Regions from separate parts of the Homo sapiens genome. Here region 2 is linked to region 1. A link means that fine-mapping ties the variant in region 1 to the expression of a gene that starts in the linked region. Tissue or cell type: cerebellar hemisphere. Region 1 holds a variant in brackets; the other region holds the start of a gene. All regions are shown on one strand. Distances are between the middles of the regions.

Region 1 (8,100 bases):
CCAGGGAGCCAAGTGGTCTTGGTCAGTGGGTCCCACTCCCACAGAGCCCAGCAAGCTAAGAACCACTGGCTTGAAATTCTCAGTGCCAGCACAGCAGTCTGAAGTCCACCTGGGATGATCGAGCTTGGTGGGGGGAGGGGCATCCACCATGGCAGAGACTTGAGTAGGTGGTTTTCCCCTCACAGTGTTAAGGAAGCCGCCAGGAAGTTCGGACTGTGTGGAACTCACTGCAGCGCAGAAAAACGGCTGTGGCCAGACTGCCTCTCTAGATTCCTCCTCACTGGGCAGGGCATCTCTGAAAGAAAGGCAGCAGCCCCAGTCAGGGGCTTATAGATAAAACTCTCATCTCCCTGGGACAGAGCACCTGGGGGAAGGGGCAGCTGTGGGTGCAGCTTCAGTAACTTAAATGTTCCTGCCTGCCGACTCTGAAGAGAGCAGCAGATCTCCCAGCACACTGCTCAAGCTCTGCTAAGGGACAGACTGCCTCCTCAAGTGGGTCCCTGACCCCCATGCCTTCTGACCGGGAGACACCTCCCAGTAGGAGTCAACAGACACCTCATACAGGAGAGCTCTGGCTGGCATCAGGTGGGTGCCCCTCTGGGAGGAAGTTTCCAGAGGAAGGAGCAGGCAGCAATCTTTGCTGTTCTGCAGCCTCTGCTGGTGATACCAGGCAAACAGGGTCTGGAGTGGACCTCTAGCAAACTCCAGCAGACCTGCAGAAGAGGGGCCTGACTATTAGAAGGGAAACTAACAAACAGAAAGCAATAACATGAACATTAACCAAAAGGACGCTCACCCAAAAACCCCATCCAAAGGCCATCAGCATCAAAGATCAAAGGTAGATAAATCCACAAAGATGAGGAAAAACCAGTACAAAAATGCTGAAAATTCCAAAAACCAGAATGCTTCTTCTCCTCCAAATAATCACAACTCCTCTCTGACAAGGGCACAAAACTGGACAGAGAATGAGTTTGATGAATTGACAGAAGTAGGCTTCAGGAGGTGGGTAATAACAAACTCCTCTGAGCTAAAGGACCATCTTCTAACCCAATGCAAGGAAGCTAAGAGCATTGATAAAAGGTTACAGGAACTGCTAACTAGAATAACCAGTTTAGAGAAAAACATAAATGACCTGATGGAGCTGAAAAACACAGCACGAGAACTTCATGAAGTATATACAAGTATCAATAAGCAAATCAATCAAGTGGAAGAACGGATATCAGAGACTGAAGATCAACTTAATGAAATAAAGCATAAAGACAAAATTAGAGAAAAAAGAATGAAAAGGAACAAACAAAGCTTCCAAGAAATATGAGACTATGTGAAAAGGCCAAACCTATGATTGACTGGTATACCTGAAAGTGACAGGGAGAATGGGACCAAGTTGGAAAACACACTTCAGGATATTATCCAGGAGAACCTCCGCAACCTAGCAAGAGAGGCCAACTTTCAAATTCAGGAAATATAGAGAACACTACTAAGATACTCCTTGGGAAAAGCAATCACAAGACACATGATCGTCAGATTCTCTAAGGTTGAAATGAAGGAAAAAATGTTAAGGGCAGCCAGAGAGAAAGGTCAGACTACCTACAAAGGAAGCCCATCAGACTCACAGCAGATCTCTGCAGAAACCCTTCAAGCCAGAAGAGAGTAGGCGACCAATATTCAACATTCTTAAAGAAAAGGATTTTCAACCCAGAATTTCAAATCTATCCAAACTAAGCTTCAGAAGTGAGGGAGAAATAAAATCCTTTACAGACAAGCAAATGCTGAGGGATTTTGTCACCAACAGGCCTGCCTTACTCCTGAAGGAAGCATTAAATATGGAAAGGAAAAATTGGTACCAGCCACTGCAAAGACATACCAAAATATAAAGACCAACAACCCTATGAAGAAACTGCATCGACTAATGTGCAAAATAACCAGCTAGCATCATGATGACAGGATATAATTAATACATAACAATATTAACCTTAAATGTAAATGGGCTGAATACCCCAATTAAAAGACACAGACTGGCAAATTGGATAAAGGAGTCAAGACCTTTTGGTGTGCTGTATTCAGGAGACCCATCTCATGTGCAAAGAGACACACACAGGCTCAAAATAAATGGATGGAGGAATATTTACCAAGCAAATGGAAAGAAAAAAAAAGGCAGGGGTTGCAATCTTAGTCTCTGATAAAACAGACTTTAAACCAACAAAGATCAAAAGAGACAAAGAAGGGCATTACATAATGGTAAAGGGATCCATGCAACAAGAGCTAACTATCCCAAATATGTATGCACCCAATACAGGAGCACCCAGATTCATAAAGCAAGTTCTTAGAGACCTACAAAGAGACTTAGATTCCCACACAATAATAGTGGGAGACTATAACACCCCACTGTCAATATTAGGCAAATCAACAAGACAGAAAATTAACAAGGATATTTAGGATTTGAACTCAGCTCTGGACCAAGCAGACCTAATAGACATCTACTGAACTATTCACCCCAAATCAACAGAATATACATTCTTCTCAGCACATCACACTTATTCTAAAATCAACCACATAATTGGAAATAAAACACTCCTCAGCAAATGCAAAAGAACGGAAATCATAACAAACGCTCTCTCGGACCACAGTGCAATCAAATTGGAACTCAGGATTAAGAAACTCACCCAAAACTGCACAACTACTTAGAAACTGAAAAACCTGCTCCTGAATGACTACTGGGTAAATAACGAAATTAAGGAAGAAATAAAGATGTTCTTTGAAACCAATGAGAACAAAGACAAAATGTACCAGAATCTCTGGGACACAGCTAAAGCAGTGTTTAGACGGAAGCTTATAGCACTGAATGCCCACATCGGAAAACTGGAAAGATCTAAAATAGACAACCTAATGTCACAATTAAAAGAACTAGAGAAGCAAGAGCAAACAAATTCAAAAGCTAGCCGAACAGGGCTGGGTGCAATGGCTCACGCCTGTAATCCCAGCACTTTGGGAGGCTGAGGCAGGCAGATCACGAGGTCAGGAGATCGAGACCATCCTGGCTAAAACGGTGAAACCCTGTCTCTACTAAAAATACAAAAAATTAGCAGGGTGTAGTGGCGGGCACCTGTAGTCCCAGCTACTTGGGAGGCTGAGGCAGGAGAATGGTGTGAACCCAGGAGGCGGAGCTTGCAGTGAGCCGAGATTGTGCCACTGCACTCCAGCCTGGGTGACAGAGTGAGACTCTGTCTCAAAAAAAAAAAGCTAGCAGAACAGAAGAAATAACCAAGATCAAAGCAGAACTGAAGATGATAGAGACATGAAACACCCTCCAAAAAATCAATGAATCCAGGAGCTGGTTTTTTGAAAAGATTAACAAAACAGGCAACTAGCCAGAATAAAAAAGAAGAAAAGAGAGAAGAATCAAATAAATGCAATAAAAAATGATAAAGGGGATATCACCACTGATCCCACAGAAATACAAACTACCTTCAGAGAATACCATAAATGCCTCTATACAAATAAACTAGAAAATCTAGAAGAAATGGATAAATTCCTGGACACATACATCCTCCCAAGACTAAACCAGGAAGAAGTCGAACTCCTGAATAGACCAGTAACAAGTTCTGAAATTGAGGCAGTAATTAATAGCCTACCAACCAAAAAAAGCACAGGATCAGAGGGATTCACAGCCAAATTCTACCAGAGGTACAAAGAGGAGCTGGTACCATTCCTTTTGAAACTCTTCCAAACAATAGAAAAAGAGGGACTCCTCCCTAACTCATTTTATGAGTCCAGCATCATCCTGATACCAAAACCTGGCAGAACACAACAAAAAAAGAAAGTTTCAGGTCAATATCCCTAATGAACATCGATGCGAAAAACCTCAATAAAATACTGGCAAACTGAATCCAGCAGCACATAGAAAAGCTCATCCACCACGATCCAGTTGGCTTCATGCCTGGGATGCAACGCTGGTTCAACATATGCAAATCAATAAACATAATCCATCACATAAACAGAACAAATGACAAAAACCACATGATTATCTCAATAGATGCAGAAAAGGCCTTCAATAATATTCAATACACCTTCATGCT[A/G]AAAACTCTCAATAAACTGGGCATTGATGGAACATATCTCAAAATAATAAGAGCTATTTATGACAAACCCACAGCCAATATCATACTGAATGGACAAAAGCTGGAAGCATTCTCTTTGAAAACTGGCACAAGAAAAGGATCCCCTCTCTCACCACTCCTATTCAACGTAGTATTGGAAGTTCTGGCCAGGGCAATTAGGCAAGAGAAAGAAATAAAGGGTATTCAAATAGGAAGAGAGGAAGTCAATTTTTCTCTGTTTGCAGATGACATGGTTGTATATTTAGAAAACCCCATCTTCTCAGCCCAAAAACTCCTTAAGCTGATAAGCAACTTCAGGAAAGTCTCAGGATACAAAAATCAATGTGCAAAAATCACAAGCATTCCTATACACCAATGATAGGCAAACAGAGAGCCAAATCATGAGTGAACTCCCATGCACAATTGCTACAAAGAGAATAAAATACCTAGGAATCCAACTTACAAGGGACATGAAGGACCTCTTCAAGGAGAACTACAAACCACTGCTCAAGGAAATACGAGAGGACACAAACAAATGGAAAAACATTCCATGCTCATGAATAGGAAAAACCGATATTGTGAAAATGGCCACACTGCCCAAAGTAATTTATAGATTCAATGCTATCCCCATCAAGCTACCATTAACTTTCTTCACATAACTAGAAAAAACTACTTTAAATTTCATATGGAAACAAAAAGACCTCATATAGCCAAGACAATCCTAAGCAAAAGGAACAAAGCTGGAGGCGTCACACCACCTGTCTTCAAACTATACTACAAGGGTAAAGTAACCAAAACAATATGGTATTGGTACCAAAACCGATACATAGAACAATGGAATGGAACAGAGGCCTCAGACATGACACCACATATCTATAACCATCTAATCTTCAACAAACCTGACAAAAACAAGAAATGGGGAAAGGATTCCCTATTTAATAAATGGTGTTGTGAAAACTGGCTAGCCATATGCAGAAAACTGAAACTGGACTCCTTCCTTACACCTTACACAAAAATTAATTCAAGATGGATTAAAGACTTAAACGTAAGACCTAAAACCATAAAAACCCTAGAAGAAAACCTAGGCAATACCATTCAGGACGTAGGCATGGGCAAAGACTTCATGACTAAAACACCAAAAACAATAGCAACAAAAGCCAAAATTGACAAATGGTATCTAATTAAACTAAAGAGCTTCTGCACAGCAAAAGAAACTATCATCAGAGTGAACAGGCAACCTATAGAATGGGAGAAAATTTTTGCATTCTATCCATCTGACAAAGGTATGATATCCAGAATCTACAAGGAACTTAAACAAATTTACATGAAAAAAACAAACTACCCCATCAAAAATTGGGCGAAGGATATGAACAGACACTTCTCAAAAGAAGACATTTATGTGGCCAACAAACATATGAAAAAAAGCTCATCATCACTGGTCATTACAGAGATGCAAATCAAAACCACAACAAGACACCATCTCACATCAGTTAGAATGGCGATTATTAAAAAGTCAGGAAATGACAGATGCTGGAGAGGATGTGGAGAAATAGGAACGTTTTTACACTGTTAGTGGGAGTGTAAATTAGTTCAACCATTGTGGAAGACACTGTGGCGATTCCTCAAGGATCTAGAACTAGAAATACCATTTGACCCAGCAATTCCATTACTGGGTATATACTCAAAAGATTATAAATCCTTCTACTATAAAGACACATGCACATGTATGTTTATTGCAGCACTATTCACAATAGCAAAGACTTGGAACCAACCCAAGTGCCCATCAATGATAGAATGGATAAAGAAAATGTGGCACAGGGACACCATGGAATACTATCCAGCCATAAAAAGGGATGAGTTCATGTCCTTTGCAAGGACATGGGTGAAGCTAGAAACCATCATTCTCAGCAAACTAACACAGGAACAGAAAACCAAACACCACATGTTCTCACTCATAAGTGGGAGTTGAACAATGAGAACACATGGACACAGGGAGGGCAACATCACACACTGGGGTCTGTCGGGGTGTGGGGGGCAAGGGGTGAAAGAGCACTAGGACAAATACCTAATGCATGTGAGGCTTAAAATCTAGATGATAGGTTGATGGGTGCAGCAAACCACCATGGCACATGCATACCTATGCAACAAACCTGCACATTCTGCACATGTATTCCAGAACTTAAAGTATAATAAAAAATAAAATAAAATTGATTTATAATTCTTTATATTCTGAATATTATAGTAAATCATCAAATCTAAGTAACCAACCCCTTCTAAACTGCATCATTATTTTATCTCTAAGAAAGAAAAAACCCTGGCAATTATAATTGAAAGATTTCATCTATTCTAAGATGCTTCCCAACTGTAGAGATGTTAAAATGTGAAATAACTGTCTTAGTATTGATGAAGTACTGTGATCCATTGTCAGACATATGTATTGCAAATGGGGGATTTCTGTGAAATATGTTTTCTTGAAATAGTACTTTCTGAAAAATCATGCACCCATAATAAGAGAGATTATGAAGAAAATAGAGTCATGGTTGACTTCTCAAAACCTTTGCAACTTTGTAACTAGAACACTAACAAAATAAATAATGGTCCTAATTTAAAATATTAATACAGTTTAAAAGACATGTTAAATTCCCAATTAAAAATAACAGAGTAAATAAAATACTGGTCTTTTAAGAAAATGAAAGGAATGAAAAGAAAAGGTGGCTTGACAGAAACGGGTATAAGAAAGTGTTAGGCTACTAAATAATGAAGATAGGGCAAATAGTGCAATAAAGATTTTTAAAACAGAACACATGGTCAAACAGAAAAGAGGATAAATTGAAGTGTATAGGTATCATATACACTGCCATATTCTTCCTCAGCTGCAATATTCAGTTGTGTTCTTTTATTTTATTTACTTGTAGCTATTTGATGATAAAAAACATTAGCTTGCTGAGGAAAATGGCATAGAAACTAGTATAACCTGAGTTAAATTCATGTCATTTTCTACATATGTGCCAATCACATGTAAACTTTTTTGTACTGCAGAAATAAATGTAGAGGAACAGAGAGTATCTTGTCACATTCTGATTTTTTCACCTTTTTAAGAAATTGTATTTTGATGACAGAAGCTCTTAATTTTAATGTAGTCAAATGTATAAATCTTTTCCTTTACAGCTAATGGTTTTTGTGTCTAGTTGAAAAAAATCCTTTCCTAAAGCTATGGAGATATTCTATATTCTTTTTAAAAAGCACTACAGGTTTGCCTTTCACACCTAGGACTTTAACACAAAAAACAGATGGTGGGGATGGGGGAGCTGGTGAGAAGTACCAGTCTAATTTCCTTTTTTTCCAAATGACTACTCAAAATAATTTATTAAAAGTCATTAATTTCCCTTCTGATCAGCCACAGCACTTCTTTCATGGAAATGTCTATATAAGCTTGGGTGTTTACTACTAGGCTTTCTATCTACTGACCATTCTGGTATCATTATCAGTGTTATAATTATTCTATTTTCCTAATAAATCTTGATATATAGTATAGCAAGTCCACCTATCTTGCTTTTTGTATTCAAAGCCTGTCCATATACATTCTAGAATCAGATAAACAGGCTAAAAAGGCTGAAATTTTTATGGAATTACATTGAATCTACAAGTCAATTTGAGCAGAACTGGTATCTTTGCCATACTGCCTTTAATTCATGAATAAGAAATTTCTGTCAGCATATTTAGATCTTCTTTAGCATCCCTCAATTTCACACTATAGAGGACTTACGTTTCATTAGAGGTTAATTTCTAGGTATTTTTAAAAAACTTATATGCTATGGTAAGTAATATTTTCATAAACTTTCATTTTCTAAATATTGATGGTATGAAAGAAATAATTTACCTACAATAGAATGCACTAATTCTAATAGTACAATTATGTGAACTTTGGAAACCATTATCCCCCAAAGTTTCCTTGGGCCTCTTTGTAGTCCTCCACTCTGGGCAGTTACTGACCTACTGTCAGTAT
Region 2 (6,049 bases), 190 kb before region 1:
CACATTTTTTGAGTAACTGCCATGGGCCAGGCAGTTTATATGAGGGTTTCTCATTTAATCCTCACATCCTTAAGAAGGTGACTATCTCCATAATACAGGTGAGAAAACAGGCTTGTTAGTTGAATAAATTGCTTAAGATCACAGATTATTGGTTGGGAGCAAGGATTCAGACCTTGTTCGCTGGTAGCCGCAGGAAGCACTGAATAGTTTCCAACAGGGCACCTGAAAAATGGTTTACTACTTACCACTATTCTCTAATACTTCTTACCTGATTCAGTTCCTCCAGACACTCCCTGAAAATCTGTGTGCCAAACAGTGAAGTAAAGTACTTTTGCTATTAATGTAATTGAGGTTAAATATTTACGTGTGCAAAATTCGACGTTTTTCACTTGTCATTTATCTCTTTTTTCAAGTTGGCCATTTGTCTTGAAGCTCAACAGAATTGTAATGTTTAGCACTAAGGAAAGGAAAAGCTGTCAAGGAGCAAAAGCAGAAGGAAACCACTGCCAATGTGTGCAATATAAAAATAAGGGTAAAATAATTTTTACTTTATTTGAGACAGGTCTCTGTTGCCTAGGCCGAAGTGCAGTGGTGCAATCATAGCTCACTACAGCCTCGAACTCGTGGACTCAGACGATCCTCCTGCCTCAGTCTTCGAAGTAGCTGGGACTACAGGTGCGCGCCACCACCCCCGGCTAATTTTTTTTTTTTAAGAGACGGGGTCTGGCCATGTTGCTAAGGCTGGTCTCAAACTCCTGTGCTCAAGCTACATTTCCGCCTCAGGCCTCCCAAAGCGCCCAGATTGCAGGCGTGAGCCACTGCGCCCAGGCTGGGTGAAGTAATTTGTAAAACTTAGTCCTGTGGGAGTTATTTTAGCTTAGTCGATTTTCCTCATCCGTGAAATGGGATAACTTCCACCTGGTGCCCACTCAATAGATAAGAAGAAATAATGTCTGCAAAACATTGAGTACAGCGCCTCTTAGGCTTTCTTAAGTGAAGCTATCATCTGTCATTAGCTTTCTCTGACCCAGATGCTACACGCTGTGGGCTAGCAAGAACACGGCTTCAAATAAGGTGGGGAGAATGGCTGTAAGGGGACAGTGTTCCATTAATGGCCAAAAAAAAAAAAAAAAAAAAAGCAGCCTAAAAATCCTTTTAACGTATCCTTAAATATTCACTTGAGGGTTCAACCTTTCTTTCCTTTCTCCTGACCTCTATCGGCCCTAATTAACCTGTTCCTGCCGCCACCTAACTTTACCCTAATTTGGAAAAAGCTGTGACTGCCCAATACTTGTTCCTCTTTTCCCCCTACACCTTTGAGCACTAGAAAGCTCCAGACCCAGAGCTGCTGAGGGGCGGGAGAGGAAGGGAGTCACTAAGCCGCAGCCTGGCCCTTCCTCCCAGGGCAGCGTAAATTCACGCAAACATTGATTCGTTCGCTCAACAAACATTGGGAACCTAAGTGCCAGGCTTGTGCCAGGCCCCAGTCTCTGACCTCATGGAGCCCACAGCCCACTGGGGAACAGAGATTAAGCCATGAAACACGAAAATGAGTGCCACAAAGACGTGAGCTACTAGAGTATCAGGACCGACCTCCTTTAGACCGCTGGATGGGAGAGTCGTTTGTGAGGAAGTGACTTTTAAGCTGAGGCCTGAAGGGTGATCTGAGGGAGCTGCTCTTGGCCATCGATATGCCGCGCGACTCCCCAGGCCCTCGGACCCGGAGCCTGGACCAAGGCTGGGCGGGAAGGCCCCGGGCCAGGGGCGGAGCCACCTCGGCGGCGAAAGCCGGAAAGCGGAAGCCGAAGGCTGCTGCCCGGTGGTCGGCTGAGCGGCTCTAGCCCAGATCTCAGACGGCTGAGTCACTGCATCCCGGCGCGGCCCGCAGAAGACGAGCGCCGCTGCCGCCGCCTCCTCCTCCCGGGCTCCCGGGCTCTCGGGGTCCGGGGCCTTTGCACCTGTCTTTTCCAGCTGGGCACAAAGCCTTTTGCTGTCGCCGTGGCGACTGGAGGCCTTCACTTTTAATCCCCCTCATTTTCCAGTTCATTCTCTGCTTATTTTCTGGTCAGTCCGTGACCCTGTAGGCGGCCTCTGACCGGCGATCGATTTGCCGCCCTCAGGGCGCTGGGCGGCCGGCTGCCTCCGAAGCTGGGGCGGCCTCCGCGGTCTCCATGGTAACGGCCTCTCCGGCGTCTCCGCCTGGAGGGGAAGATGCGGCCTGCCTGGCCCGCCGCCTCGCCCCCGGCCTCACGGTGGGACCCCGGGCACTGAGGACGGAGGTCCCGGGCGCCGGCCCGCGGGGCAACGGGCACTAGGTGAGAGCCGGACGCGGGCGAGCGAAGGAGGCGGGTGCCGGGCGACTCCAGCGGCGGCCCCTGCCCCTCCCCCGCACCCACGAACACGCTCGCCCGATATATTGCAGAGGCTTCTCCGGTCGCCGCTGCGCCAGTTTTTTTTTGTTTGTTTGTTGTGTTTTCCCTGGCAAACAGCTGGAGAAAGAGCAGCTCATGGAGAGGCTGAGAGAAGCGGTTTTCGCGTCCTACCCAAACTGGGAGAGTAACCTTCAGCAGCTGGACTCACCGATTGGTTTTCCTTCATTTTCAGTGAAATCCCATTCTCTGGCTGGAGACACAGATGGCCTCAAATGAGAGAGATGCTATATCGTGGTACCAAAAGAAGGTAATACATATATATATTTTTTTTATTTGTAAAGCATTCTTCCTGCAAAAAGCTCCCACAAATAATATAATGTTACTTTCCCCCGAGTTTAGTAGTGCCAGGTGTTCATGTATACTTCAACATAAATGAAAAAAAAAAAAAAAAGATGTACAAGGTCATTATGTCTTTTAAACCCGGTTCCAGGTCCCAGAATAAGGTTTACAAGCCACCTCCTTCAGGCTGCATACACAATGCCACCGCAATGCTTTGAAAGTTTGCTTCTGATCAAACTGCTTAAAAACAAAAAAGACATGAAACCTGTATGTGCACAGCTCAGATTGATACTATCAACAATCTTATTGAGCTGTTCCTTATCTTTTATTCCTCTCTAGTTTTTCTAGTGCTCTTTTCCTTAAGAAGTGGATTTTTTTTTTTTTTTTTTTTTTTTGAGACGGAGTTTCGCTCTTGTTGCCCAGGCTGGAGGGCGATGGCGCGACCTCGGCTCACTGCAAGCTCCGCCTCCCGGGCTCAGCCTCTGGAGTAGCTGGGATCACAGGCGCCCACCACCACGCCCGGCTAATTTTTTGTATTTTTAGTAGGGACGGGGTTTCACCATGTTGGTCAGGCTGGTCTCAAACTACAGGCGTGAGCCACCATGCCCGCCCAAGAAGTGGAAATATCTTTTAAGGTAATATTAATTTGAAATATTTTGGGCATTGCTTTTGAACTTACTTTTAGGTCCAGCTATTTTAGATTTTTGAAGGAAACAGTCCTTCGAAGTATTGATTTATTCTAACTTTTGAGAAGCATATTTTCCACATAGCATATTGATACTTAATAGGCTCATGACTTTTATGAGGCTTGACTTAATAATGTAAGGATTTCCTTTGCATCGTTTAACTAATAGACTACTCCCTCTTTCAGATTGGAGCCTACGATCAGCAGATATGGGAAAAGTCAATCGAACAGACTCAGATTAAGGTAAATTGATTTCTTTGATTCCGCCTATGTTTCACTGCATTAATATGAAGAGTGGAATTGTACTTACCTGGTAAACTCTGCATTTAACTACCAGTATGGCATTCTTTAATCTTTGAAGGTTATAAGAAAAGCAGTGCAAGCATAATGAGAAGTGACACTTGATTTTTGGCCTCACTATCAGGAAAACAGAAAGGAGTGAGTTGTTCTATGATGAATTAGAGAGCAAATGTCCCATATAAATAGGGCTGGGGTTACTTAGCTCTGGCTAGTTTTTACCACTTGGCAGTGCAGGTCCAAATATTGCCAGAGTTTCAGATTTTTCAAGAGAAGCTGGAAATACACATTTTTATATGAAATATATTGTGCATTTTGTGTCGGATTTTTAAGAGACTCTTCCTTCTCTTCCTCCTCCTCCTTTGCAAGCCAAATAAAATCCATTTGTGGCCTGAATCCAGCCTATGGTCCCCCATTTTATTCAATCACTGGCTTAGAGTATGTGTTTTTGTTTGTTTTTTTGTTTTGTTTTGTTTTTGAGACAGAGTCTCACTCTGTCGTCCAGGCTGGAGTGCAGTGGCGTGATCTTGGCCCACTGCAAGCTCCGCCTCCTGGGTTCACGCCATTTTCCTGCCTCAACCTCCAGAGTAGCTGGGACTACAGGCGCCCACCACCACGCCCGGCTAATTTTTTGTATTTTTAGTAGAGACGGGGTTTCACTGTGTTAGCCAGGATGGTCTCGATCTCCTGACCTTGTGATCTGCTCACCTCCGACTCCCAAAGTGCTGGGATTACAGGCGTGAGCCACCGCGCCCGGCCTAGAGTATGGTTTTAAGTTTTTCAGGTTCTTAAACTTTTTTCTACACAGCTCTTAGAACTGAGAGGATTCTTATTTTATACTAACCAAGTGACCAAAAACTGTTATATAATTCAGAATGCCAGTTTATTAACTTATAATAGGGGAGGAGAGGGTTAAATTATCTTCTGATATTCCAAAGTCAGAGTTGTGGGGTTAAGCCATTTGGGGATGCTGGTACAAATTCATCATGGAATGGTTGCTTGGTAACCAAATGTAATTGGATAGTCTTGAGATGTGGAAAAGCCTAAAGAACCATCCTTGGCCCTCAAAAGAATATAACTCTCTGCGACTTTAATACTTACTTAAATCTTATGGATTCAGGGCCTCACTTCCTTGCAAAGTGCTGATAAATGCCAGCTGATTCTTGTTTTTGCATTACCTTTCAAAAAGTATTGCAGCAGACCCTTCATTAATACTTAAAAAAACTGGGTGAATACAACTTAATATTATCTGTTCTGTTAAATAGGCCAATCAATAGAAAGCTACTTGAACAACAAGTAGCCGACTAACTTTTCACAATTTGGTATAGTCCTTGATTATTTATATTAGTGGGAGATGGGGTTAGGATGAATAAGTCTCCAGATTTTATTTTGTGATTCTCTAAAGCCTGTCCTGTTATTTTTTTGTGAGCTGCTAAACATCACTGATAGTAAGTATGGTGTAATGGAAACAGCATAGAAGTGGAGTTTGATCTTGTTTTGTGATCTCTAGCCTTGTTATCTAACCTTCTTCCCCTAGCCAATTTAAAGATTTCCTTCACCCTTTTTTTTTTTTTTTTTGAGACAGAGTCTCGCTCTGTCACCCTGGTTGGAGTGCAGTGGAGCGATCTCGGCTCACTGCCAGCTCCGCCTCCTGGGTTCACACCATTCTCCTGCCTCAGCCTCCCGAGTAGTTGGGACTACAGGGGCCCGCCACCATGCCCAGCTAATTTTTTGTACTTTTTTTTTTTAGTAGAGACGGGGTTTCACCATGTTAGCCAGGATGGTCTCGATCTCCTGACCTCGTGATCCACCTGCCTCAGCCTCCCAAAGTGCTGGGATTATAGGCATGAGGCATGAGCCACCGCGCCCTGCCTGATTTCCTTCACTCTTTTCCATGTCATTTAATACATACCTTCCTTTTAGTGCATGATATCAAAGTTATTTGTTAACCTATGTGTGTTCATAGGCCTAAGGGTAGGAAGTGTGTTTGTTTCCTACTCTTAGAACATCTTGATTCATACTAGGAACTCTGTCTGTTGCTATAGTTAATTGAACCCTATCCATCATGCATATTTTTTACTCGTTCTCTCATAGGGTAATCTACCTAACCACGCCTTAATGTATGCTTTTAAATTTAGCGGCGGTGGGAAGAATGAAATGTAAAATAACTATAAACATTTACTGAGCTTTCAGTGTGATAGTAGAAAGCTGAAAAAAAAATTACTCAGCTAATGTGCCACTCTTGTACTAGGTGCTGAGAATACAGTGAAAAAGATAGATGTGATTGTTGCCTTCATGGGTTTCACAGTCTGATAGTGATGGGAGAAAAGCCCAGATATCTTTTTAATATGCTTAA

Alleles and levels. Alleles are on the strand shown, and positions count from the first base shown. SD is a standard deviation of normalised expression in the study named.
With allele G in place of A in region 1, the expression in cerebellar hemisphere of the gene that starts at base 1,852 in region 2 is lower (moderate effect, 0.44 SD a copy in GTEx).

What was found. PIP is the estimated chance that this variant, and not a neighbour inherited with it, causes the effect.
Region 2: it holds the start of PHTF1, and the variant in region 1 is fine-mapped to the expression of PHTF1 in cerebellar hemisphere (GTEx, PIP 0.95).

Annotation. Positions count from the first base shown.
Region 1 is chr1:113,568,072-113,576,171 of GRCh38, reverse strand. The region is part of intron 2 of MAGI3 (membrane associated guanylate kinase, WW and PDZ domain containing 3); the gene reads right to left. Among named protein-coding and RNA genes, the nearest start is that of MAGI3, 180 kb to the right of the region's middle. The variant A/G (reference allele first, on the strand shown) is at 4,077.
Region 2 is chr1:113,755,289-113,761,337 of GRCh38, reverse strand. PHTF1 (putative homeodomain transcription factor 1) reads left to right here and starts at 1,852. Exons shown (of 19, transcript NM_001323043.2): 1 at 1,852-2,315; 2 at 2,605-2,679; 3 at 3,583-3,639. The coding sequence starts at 2,635. RefSeq lists enhancers at 1,400-1,979, 4,258-4,813 and silencers at 2,130-2,449, 3,083-3,212.